3 linked regions of the Homo sapiens genome follow. The protein of the gene in region 2 purifies or fractionates together with the protein of the main gene of each other region. This does not show direct contact. Each region holds a gene or a part of one and is shown on either strand. Other genes may lie near its edges. The genes, in order: ALDH5A1, PAGE4 and TNKS2.

Region 1 (3,652 bases), on a different chromosome or scaffold from region 2:
TATTTTTTTAACTCCTCTGTGTCTGTTACAACTTTAAGCAGAATGTGACTCAGGCACTACATTTCCATCCACGAGACTGGCTCTGAGTTATTTCTGAACAGCTTTATGATATGCTTAGGTAGGCTTGTAACTTTGCTTCTCCAAACTATACTTTTCTTTGGAAAACAAGCCCTGTGGAGAGTTCCTTCCATCAAGTTGATTCAGTTTAACCTATTTCTAGAGGACTAGTACATGCAGAATTGGCAACTACAGGGGAAGAAAAGTTCAAAAAGCAGACCCTACAAGAGGTAACAAATACTTTTTTTCTAAACATCAAGGGTATAGCTCAAGAACACTTCGATAACAAGATTTGGTCTACTAAGGAATCCGGCTTGATAGCTAAACACTTAGACTACCAAGTTAACATCATGTTATATACATCTTACAACGATTACCTTGATCTGTTAAAATAAGCATTTTACCTTGATCTGTTAAAATAAGATTACTTTGATCTGTGAAACTAAAAAAGCATTACTAGCTCTGCCTTAGTGCTTAAGGTATCACAGCATCACTTAGAAGTAGAAAGAAATCTTATCTTCCCCTTAAAGTCGTTGTTGTCATGCCATACAGACTTTTCATGCTAACAGGATCTACAGGATGATCATGCTCAGCTAATTAAAAAAAAATTTTTTTTGTACAGACAAGGTCTCACTATATTGCTCATGCTAACTGACCCTTCTTTGATGAGTAATAGAGATCCAATTTCAAGTTGCATCTAAAGAGGTATACTGCGTCATAAATTATAAAAGATAAAATAAGTTTTGTGGAAACAGCTATTATTGCTTATGGTAAATAAGAACAACTTTAATTTTACCATACAAAGGTATATAGTTCCCTACGTTATTATTATTATTATTATTATTATTATTATTATTTTAGATACGGTCTTGATCTGATGCCCAGGCTGGAGTGCAGTGGCGCAATCATAGCTCACTGCAACCTCAGACTCCTGGCTTTAAGCGATCCTCCTGCCTTGGCCTCCCAAAGTGCTGAGATTACAATCATGAGCCACCATGCCTGGACCATTCTACTTTCTGTCTCTATGAATCTGACAACTCTAGGTACCTCATATTAAGTAGAATCATACAGCATTTGCCCTTTTGTGACTGGCTTATTTCACTCAGCATAGTGTCTTCAAGTATTGTTCCCTATTATAGTGGCTCACTGGCAACCTGGATTTGTCCCAGAGACTGACATATGGACTGGGGCATGCATGAGGCATAAGAAAGGGTTTTACACACTTAAGAAGAGGGCCCAGGCACAACAACATGAATGCACTTAATACCACTGAAATGTACACTTAAAAATGGTTAAAATGGTAAATGTTATGTTATGCATATTTTGCCATAATTTAAAAAATTCCAATGAACAAAAAACAGATAAAGGGATACATTGGATTATTAACAATATTATGGGACCAGGTGTGGCGGCTCATGCCCGTAATCACAACACTTTGGAAGGCCAAGGAGGGAGGGTTGCTTGTGGCCAGGAGTTCAACACCAGCTTGGGCAATGCGGTGAGATCTGTCTCTACACACACACACACAGAAATTATCTGAGTGTGGGGCTGGGCGCAGTGGCTCGTGCCTGTAATCCCAGCACTTCGGGAGGCCGAGGCGGGCGGATCATGAGGTCATGAGATCCAGACCATCCTGGCTAACACGGTGAAACCCCGTCTCTACTAAAAATACAAAAAAATTACCCGGGCATGGTGGCAGGCGCCTGTAGTCCCAGCTACTCGGGAGGCTGAGGCAGGAGAACCTAGGAGGCGGAGGTTGCAGTTGAGCCGAGACTGCGCCACTGCACTCCAGCCCGGGTGACAGAGCGAGACTCCGTCTCAAAAAAAAAAAAAAAAGAAAAGAAATTATCTGGGTGTGGTGGTGCATGCTTGTGGTCCCAGCTACTCAGAAGGCTGAGGTGGGGGAATCGCTTAGGCCTATGAGTTTGAGGCTGCAGTGAGCCAATGATAGCATCACTGTACTCCAGCCTAGGCAATGGAGCAAGACCCTGTCTCAGAAAAAAAAGAAAAGAAAAAAGGAAGAAATGGCTTATTAAAAAAAAAATTAATTCATTCACATAAAACCACTTAAAAAAAGAAAATGAGGAAGGCCTAGAGAATCTAGGCCACCTGGGCTGCCATCAAGGCACTCTAAAGAGAGCGCTGCTCAGGCTGTAGCTTCCCACATCTGCACAGGTGTATTCAAAGCCAAGAAAAACCTTCATTTTTGTTTTTTGAGACAGTCTCGCTCTGTCACCCAGGCTGGAGTACAGTGGCGCCATCTCGGCTCACTGCAACCAACCTCCGCCTCCTGGGCTCAAGCAATTCTCATGCCTCAGCCTCTTGAGTAGCTGGGATTACATACAGGTGCATGCCACAATGCCTGGCTAATTTTTGTATTTTTTCTTTTTTTTTTTTTTTTTTGAGACAGAGTCTTGCTCTGTCCACCAGGCTGGAGTGCAGTTGGCATGATCTCGGCTCACTGCAACCTCCGCCTCCCAGGTTCAAGCAATTCTCCTTGGCTCAGCCTCCTGAGTAGCTGGGATTACAGGCGCCCACCACCACGCCCAGCTGATTTTTGTATTTTTTAGTAGAGATGGGGTTTCGCCATGTTGGCCAGGCTGGACTTGAACTCCTGACCTCAAGTGATCCACCTGCCTTAGCCTCCCAAAGTGCTGGGATTACAAGTGTGAGCCACCGTGTCTGGCCAATTTTTGTATTTTTAGTAGAGACAGTGTTTCACCATGTTGGACAGGCTGGTCTCGAACTCCTGACCTCAGGTGATCCACTCGCCTTGGCCTCCCAAAGTGCTGGGATTACAGGCGTTAGCCACCGTGCCCAGCCTGAACCCCTCCTTTCAAAAAGGAAGGTTCCCTGAGAAGATCCTAGCCCTTGTAAGATGGAAGCTGACATCACTGTAATGTTCAAGGGGCACAGACATTAGGATGGGCGGTGTGATCTGAACACAGGATAATGCTGCTAGTGTCAGCAAGAGGTCCCAACACCCGCCCTGCAGCTGCCAAACAATCACTGACAGACTAGAAGGCTTTCCAGACCCCTGCAGTGTAACACCATTGTATGGCAGCCTTGATCTTCGTGGGGCCTTGTGGGACTCCAGAATGATGCTAGGGGAACCAGGGCTCAGGCCCTGGTCCACTCCTTTCCTGTGATCTCACCATTTCCATAGCTGTAAGTATGTATGCAGTACACACAGGTATGAATTTCACATTTATATTTCTAGCCTAGGGTTCGCTCTCAAACCTCAGACTCATACACCCAACTGCTTACTTTACATCCTCTCTTGGGTGTGAACCGACATCTCAAACTCAATAAGTCTAAAACTGAACTCTTGATATCTCACCCTAATGCTGTTCAATTCAGCTATCCTCATCCTTCCAATTGCTCAGGCCAAAAGCCCTGGAGTCATCACTAACCCCTCTCCTTCACCTACTTTCTATATAATGATCCATCAGAAAATCCAGTGGGCTCTACCTTCAAAATACATCCTTTATGGGATAACTCTTCACCTTGTCCACTGCTACCACCCTGGTTCAAGCCACCGTGGCCTCCCACCTAAATCCGTGCAACAACCTCCTAACCTGTCTCTCTGCTTCCA
Region 2 (3,752 bases):
CTATGTAAGATCTAACCATAATATATGGTTTGCTCAAACTTTTAATGCAATGACTTATGCCCAGAAAAATAATATCCCAATAAAACCAAGTTTAACTCATGAAACAGTTTACAATTTTGTCTAAATTTAATGTAGTTTCCTTTTGTTTGCTAATATAGAGTCTTGGCAAGGATTGTATTTTCCAAGTATGCCAAAGAACTCTTAAGATATAAGATAAGTAAAATGCTGAAGAGAAAATTTATCACAAGGACTACAGCAGCTGAAAACTACACTATTCCCTTACCAAGGATTACTTTACAGGTTTCCAGCCAATTTTTAGGGGATGGTTTATTTATTCCTGTTACTAGTATAAAATCATACATGAAACACAAAATGCTCCTCCATGCCCTTCTCACCTTCGATCGGAGGTGTTCCTTCTCTCTCTTGTCCAGGTTCAATATCCTGATTGTCAGTTGGTGGTTCCTCTTGCTGAGATTCACCGGGCTTTTGAGAGGTGGGGGAGAGTAGATGCAAATAGAATATTGTTATTAATATCATGGCAATAGAAGTCACAAATATACATACTATGTGAAGGTAGCTAGTCACAAATAAATCTGAAGAGGTTTTTCCTATCTTCTCTGTAAGTACTCTTAAGAAAAGTTATTCTTCCTATATAGAATATACTTTAAGGAGTTACCTGCAAGGACCAATAATTCTGGAACCCATTTTCATCTTCTCTGGGCTGTATTATTTATTAATAAGCATGATAGGAAAGTCATAAGACTATTTCCAGACTCTTAAAAACATACATATGCAGACAATATCAGAAAATAAGTCTCCTTGCTCAATGTCTCATTAATGTGATTTAGTTTGCAACTATTTTCAGCAGGGAAGTCCTTTATATAACAGATCTATATTGGTTAACAATGTTTTAGATTTTCTTTCAGAAAAATACATTTCTGCCAATGGAAATAAGATACTGAAATGTACTCACAGCCACGAATGCAACCACATCGGGAGCCTCCTGACCATCTCCTCTTCCTCTGGATCTTGATCTCACTCGTGCACTCATCGCTGCAACTAGAAGATCGTGAACTGAAGACTGCAATAAAAAGGAGTAATTATACTTGACTCTTTCCATGGCCATCTGCTGATTGTAATTTTTTTTAATTTTGTGAGATTTCCATAATAGGTCCTGAGTTAATAATAACTACGCCTGGTTTCCAATCACATCAAATAAATCTATCTGCAAACTGCTTTGTTTCTTCCACAGCCAGCTCGGCAGAGAAGTGATCTTCAAGTCCTAGATCAAAACATGGGGTCTTTCCTAAAGAGACTTAATTTCATAACTAAACTCCATTATGAAGAGATTTTTTAATATACAGCCACCCCAGGTCCCCTCCTCCCCAGGTCCCCACTGAGAACTCCGAAACCTGTCCTCTTTCGGCAGTTTCAGGTGCCTCTGGGACTCAAAGATACCTCAAAAAGTACCCCCCAAGTTTTGCTCCATCTGATCCCTCTCCCCTCCGTGGCCCAACTTCCTCCCTCGCCCCAGCCCTGCCACAACCACAAGGTCATGGCGGCGCCACCACCTGTGAGGCCCTTCCTCCTCCGAGGCCACGGACTGTGCTGCCCGACCCTCCTGAAGCCCACCAGCTCCTCTTCACACTTAAACTCCCATGGAGGAACGATCGGTGGACCCACCCACTGAGTCTCAGTCTCAGGTGAAAGAGTCCCGACAATTGGAATGCAAACGGCACCCTCACAGCTCCGCGGCAGTTCACCTCGTGGGTGAAGGGGCTGATGGGAAGACCCCCAGTGAACACGAGCACTGAGGCAGGCGCTGTCAAGCGCGGGCTGTCCCACCCTTTCCCTGGCCCCCACTGAGGACCCCAGCATCCGTCCTTTATGGACAGTTTCATATGCCTCCAGGACTCAGATAGTGTCCCGCTCCAAAACTCACAGCATCTTGGCTGACCCTCCTCCCCTTCATGGCCCTCCTTCCTCCCCTGTCCCTGCCCCGCCGCATAGCTGCCTGCTAGGAGAAGGATGATGACCTCGAGGCCCTTCCTTCTCTGAGGCCAGGGACCACAGTGCCCGACCCACCAGAAGCCCGCCGGCCCACTCACTCACACCTGTTCTCACTTACACTTGAGTCAGCAGAGAGCCTGGCGAAGAATGAAGGGAAGAGAAGTGGCACCTACCTACTTCTGCCTCCTTGTTTAGACCTCAGCAGTGTCAACCCCACCAGCCAATCCCAAACCTCGGGGGTGTGTCACGTGGGTTGTCTTTCCAGCCCTCTCCCGCCTCCTAGAGGCTCTGTGCCACCTGGAGGAAGGGCCTGCTCGGTGCTGAGAAGGGCTTGTTTCTGGCTTCTGGCCCCTCCTGCAAAATGTTCTGTCCTTCTGGATCTAGGAATGTTCCCAGCTCTGCATTTCACCTGCAAATTTACCCTTTAATTTTTTCTCAGTGCTGCTACCTCAGTGGCCCTTAAGAGGGTATTCAGTCTTCCCAGAGATGCGTGAAAGCTTAGGTTCTCAGAGAGTGCAAAGCCATTTTAAGCATGATAGGAATCCAGAAAAAAATGTAAAGGAGAAGGATGATAAACCCACATACATAAATAAGCCTAAACATTTGCACAAAAATCCAGGCCAGGTGCGGCAGCTCATGCCTGTAATCCTAGAACTTTGGGATGCTGAGGTGGGTGGATTTCTTGAGCCCAGGAGTTCGAGACCATCCTGGGCAACATGGCAAGACCCTGTCTTTACAAAAAATACAAAAATTAGCTGGGCATGGTGGTGCACACCTGTAGTCCCAGCTACTTGAGAGGCTGAGGTGGGAGGATAGCTTGAGCCCAGGAGGTTGAGGTTGCAGTGAGCCAAGATCACACCACTGCACTCCAGCTTGGGCAACAGAGCAAGACCCTGTCTCAAAAAATAAAAAATCCTGTGACCCAGCATTTCTACTTCTAGGACTTTAATGTTAAGGAAACTGTCTTGAATGTTGACAAATATTCCTTGCTTGGCCAAACTTTTAAGTCAGGCTTCTGAAACTTCTCCTCCTAGGCCCATCTGTGCATTTCCTTGTAAAACCCAGTTTTAGCAAAGAGCCCTGCTAAGTCAATGTGGCATGAACCCTCCATCCTCAATATCTGATCATACTTGCTATCGCATGGGGTTCTTCATCTTCCACCATCCCCCAGGTGATGTCTGATTCCCCTTGGCCTGTCTTCAGCAAGAATCCTGCTAGGTGGGTTTAGCCAGAATCCCCCTTACCCCTGATGTTTCCTTTTAGTAATTTTCCACCCACGGACCGCCATACTGCTCCTTCGCTATACATTCCCACTGGCCTGCGCTGTATTCAGTATTGAGCCCAATCTCTCTCCCCCACTGCAAGATCCCATTGCAATGGTCCCTATACCCATCACCACAGTCCTAAATAAGGTTTTCCTTACTGTGCTTTAACAACTACCACTGAATGTTTTTTTTCTTTAACCATGTGAACAAAAATTTGGATACATGGGACTTCCAAAACAGCTTAATTTATAATAGCATGGTCATGGACTTGCTATATAAGTAAATTATGGCACACTTGAAAATGAAATATGGGTGACTACCAAAACCAGTGCTGAATAATATTTCCTGTAATAGTGGTGCTGTTCATTTTAAGTTATTAACTTGAAACATCCAGTTATGTAGCACTGTGTATGTACAATATGATCTCAAAAGAAAAGAGAGGTTCAATAGTGCTACCACACCACCAGCCTTCCTCTC
Region 3 (3,652 bases), on a different chromosome or scaffold from region 2:
ACTGAACTAGATTGCATACTTTTCTTCTAGATAAATATTATTTAAGAAGTAATTCCTTAGGAGAAAAATGACTCTGTAAATTGTTTCCTTTTCAGTCCGCCTGCCACTGCCCCCGACCATACGCAGATATACACAAGACAGGAATTTTTCTTTTTTTTTTTGAGATGGAGTCTAGTTCTGTCTCCCAGGCTGGAGTGCAGCGTCACGATCTCAGCTCACTGCAACCCCCACCTTCCGGGTTCGACCGATTCTCCTGTCTCAGCCTCCTAAGTAGCTGGGATTACAGGTGCGCACTGCCACGCCCGGCAAATTTTTGTATTTTTAGTAGAGACAGGGTTTCAACATGTTGGTCAGGCTGGTCTCAAACTCCTGATCTCGTGATCCGCCTGCCTCGGCCTCCCAAAGTGCTGGGATTACAGGCGTGAGCCACTGCGCCCGGCCAGGAATGATTTTTTTCCAACACAACAGAATTTGTAGAGGCAAGTTGGTGGTAGGGTGGCTGTTGCTCTAATTTTACTAAAAGCAAAAGTATCTGAAATTCTTGACAGTTAATGCCCTAGAAAACAGCAAATTTCAGTAAAGAAGACTCTGCTTCTGTGAACTTATTTCTAAAAAGTAAAGAAGAGGTGACACAAACTTGGGGAGAAAGTTATCTTGATGCCCATCATAGAAATGAAAGAAATATGTGGCATTCCTTACAATCTTAGAACTCTTGGAGTAGGGGTAGGAGCTTGCATTGTAGAGTCCTAGCTAAACAAGGTAACACTTATTTTATATTTATAGTATGTTATGTTACTGTTAGTATGAGTATGCTACTGAACCACATACATAGGACCAGTTAGACCGGACTTGGATTATTATATTCAATTGTGTGAATCAAATATAAGAGGGGATTTTTTTATTCAGAGGAGGAAAGTGGAATCAGAGCATCCAGAATTTATTGCACAAGCATAGATACGAAAATTAGTGCTGCTTATTCTAGAGATGAAAGAAGACTATACCATGTTATCGTCTTCACATATGTGGAAGAATCACAAAGAGTGAGTGGATATTACTTGTGTGGCTTTGGGAGTCAAAACTAAGGCCAGCAGGTGGAAGGTTACAAGGGGTCAGACAACCTTTAACAATATTCAGCGATCGAACTGTCTGGAAGTATCCAAGCAGTGGCTGGATTGGCATTTTTCAGAGATGTTGTAGAGAGGATTTCAGCCTAGTTCGACCAACAGGTTATAATCTCACTAGTACAAGAAAGTGGGATGATTCCTCCAATTGAAGGCTTTAGCTGCTCAGCTACCAAAGATATACTAGCTTTTGTGATTGCCATTCATATCTTTTCCCAAAATGATAACCATTGGAGACCTCCAATAACCTCTCAGTAACATTTTCTTCTTTGGCTGTAGGCCAACATCATAGTTACAAGAGATGCACAAAATTTATCCAACACTCTTCACCTAGAACTACAGTTATAGATTGTTGTTTTCAGGATTGGTTTTTGCTATGGGAGATAAATCATACATCAGCAGGAAACCCTAGTGTCAAATAAAGATCAGTCTATTTAGGAATTCATCATCTTTCTTGACTTATCAAATCTCCCAATGTATTATCAAGACTTTGAGCTATACCTTTGCCCTCAGCGCTTGCTGGATTTGGAGGTAGACAGTTGACTTCAATAACAAGAGTTTGGAGTACTCCTTTCAGTGTACCCCCATTCAGATGGTCAAAATTTCATCACCGTAGAGGCCATGGCGTTCTTTTCCAAGTTTCTACTAATCTGGCCAGACAGTATGTCTATCCCAAGTTGAGATGGGCAAAGTCCTCTCCCTTGTATTCTTCGTTCTTAAGAAGTATATGTGGGAAATAATTTTCTGGATCTTAGCAAACTAAAGTTAATAGTAAATGAGGCCCGGGCACAGTGCCACAGGCTATAATCCCAGCACTCTGGGAGGCAAAGGCAGGAGTATCACCTGAACTCAAGAGTTCAAGACCAGCCTGGGCAACAATGGTGACACCTCATCTCTACAAGAAAATAGAAAAATGAGCCGGGCATGGTGGCACAGAACTGACACTCTGGGAGGCAAAGACAGGAGTATCACTTGAGCTTAAGAGTTCAAGAGCAGCCTGGGCAACATGGCGAAACCCCATCTCTACAAAAAAATAGAAAAAGTAGCCAGGCATGGTGGTGCAGGCCTGTAGTCCTAGCTACTTGGGAGGCTAAGGTTAGAGGATTACTTGAGCCAAGGCTGCAGTGAGCCGAGATTGCGCCATTGCACTCTAGGCTGGGCAACAGAGGGAAACCTTGTAACACAAAATAGTAAATGAGAAGTTTAAAATGACATTCCTCAGAAAAAATGTGTCACTGAGAGTCCTGGCTAAAGGTTGCTTGAAAGCTGAAGGCTGTTTGATTATACCTTCCAATCTCCCAGACTACAGGAGCTTTGTTTTGTGGCATTTGTTGACATTTTTCCAGAACTTTGCCTTTGGACAAAACCCTGTGTGATAGCCTACCTTTAGATATTGCAAGACATCACCATCTCATATGGGACCAATTGTGTTATCAGTGATTAATCCCACCTTTGGACTATGAAAGACAGGAGGGGGATAGCATTTAGTTAAACTTCCTAAGAGTCTAAGTTGGTTTCTCTGTAGGAACTTGACTGCCTCACAGCTTTTGGGAAACCATTCAGATGAAAGCATGTTTCCAGTGTAGCAGCAAAATGTGATATTATTAACAATAGTCATAGTTAGCAAGCAGTACCTGGAGTTGCTGAAACTGATGGCATCTAGATAAGTAATAAATTTGACAAGAGGCTGCTTTTCTCTGTTTTCACAAATCATTAACACCATATTCTTTGTGAGGATCCTTTCCTATTCCAGCAGAGTATTAGACATGCATTAAACAAATGTTTGTCAAGTCCTGCTATATGCCAGACACTGACCTTGTCCCTGAGTAAACTGAAATGAACAGGACACAATACCTGCCATTAACTGACACATGGTTAATGTGGTCAACAAGTATACTTTACAGATAGGCCTGCTTTGCTTCACTGTAAGTACTATATAGTAGATTCATACTCTGTGTATGGTTTCATCAGAATTTTCACAAGTAGAACAGTGTTTGAAGTTGAGTGCTGTTCCATAATTACAAAATAAACTACAGTGTGTCCTGAGCAGCCATGACTACCAACTTTATTTAGGCTTCTGGTTCCTCATAAAGAGATCCTTAGAATATGGAGATTTACATTGACTCTGATGATATGCCTATTCATGTTCTACCTGGCCAGTGAGAACATGATCAGAATATACCCTGCAGAGCATTTTTTCTTCCAGAAATTGGTGCTTAACAGAAGTACTTTGAACTATTCTTGAGACCATAACAATAGAGATTTTATCAAGGATTACTCCTCAGTTTGGGAAGTATGGTTTTTTGGGGGTTGTGGGGGTGAGGCACAGAGTTTCACTCTTGTCGCCCAGGCTGGAGTGCAGTGGTGCGATCTTGGCTCACTTCAACCTCCACCTCCCAGGTTCAAGCAATTCTCCTGCCTCCTGCTTCAGCCTCCCGAGTAGCTGGGATTACAGGTATGTACCACCACGCCTGGCTAATTTTTATATTTTTAGTAGAAACAGGGTTTCACCATGTTGGCTATGGTGGTCT

What was found.
Region 1: the proteins of PAGE4 (region 2) and ALDH5A1 purify together in Homo sapiens (affinity purification with mass spectrometry, with the first as the bait; one large-scale study listed by BioGRID). This does not show direct contact.
Region 3: the proteins of PAGE4 (region 2) and TNKS2 purify together in Homo sapiens (affinity purification with mass spectrometry; 2 studies listed by BioGRID and IntAct, with this or other methods). This does not show direct contact.

The regions. Positions count from the first base shown.
Region 1 is NC_000006.12:24,497,910-24,501,561, reverse strand, and holds part of ALDH5A1 (succinate-semialdehyde dehydrogenase, mitochondrial isoform 2 precursor), read right to left. Parts: intron 1-3,652. UniProt on the Homo sapiens protein: Catalyzes one step in the degradation of the inhibitory neurotransmitter gamma-aminobutyric acid (GABA).
Region 2 is NC_000023.11:49,827,728-49,831,479, reverse strand, and holds the start of PAGE4 (P antigen family member 4), read right to left. Parts: upstream 2,178-3,752; 5' UTR 2,129-2,177; exon of another isoform or gene 2,115-2,128; intron 1,082-2,114; 5' UTR 1,052-1,081; coding exon 974-1,051; intron 484-973; coding exon 396-483; intron 1-395. UniProt on the Homo sapiens protein: Intrinsically disordered protein that potentiates the transcriptional activator activity of JUN. Protects cells from stress-induced apoptosis by inhibiting reactive oxygen species (ROS) production and via regulation of the MAPK signaling pathway.
Region 3 is NC_000010.11:91,801,331-91,804,982, forward strand, and holds part of TNKS2 (poly [ADP-ribose] polymerase tankyrase-2), read left to right. Parts: intron 1-3,652. UniProt on the Homo sapiens protein: Poly-ADP-ribosyltransferase involved in various processes such as Wnt signaling pathway, telomere length and vesicle trafficking.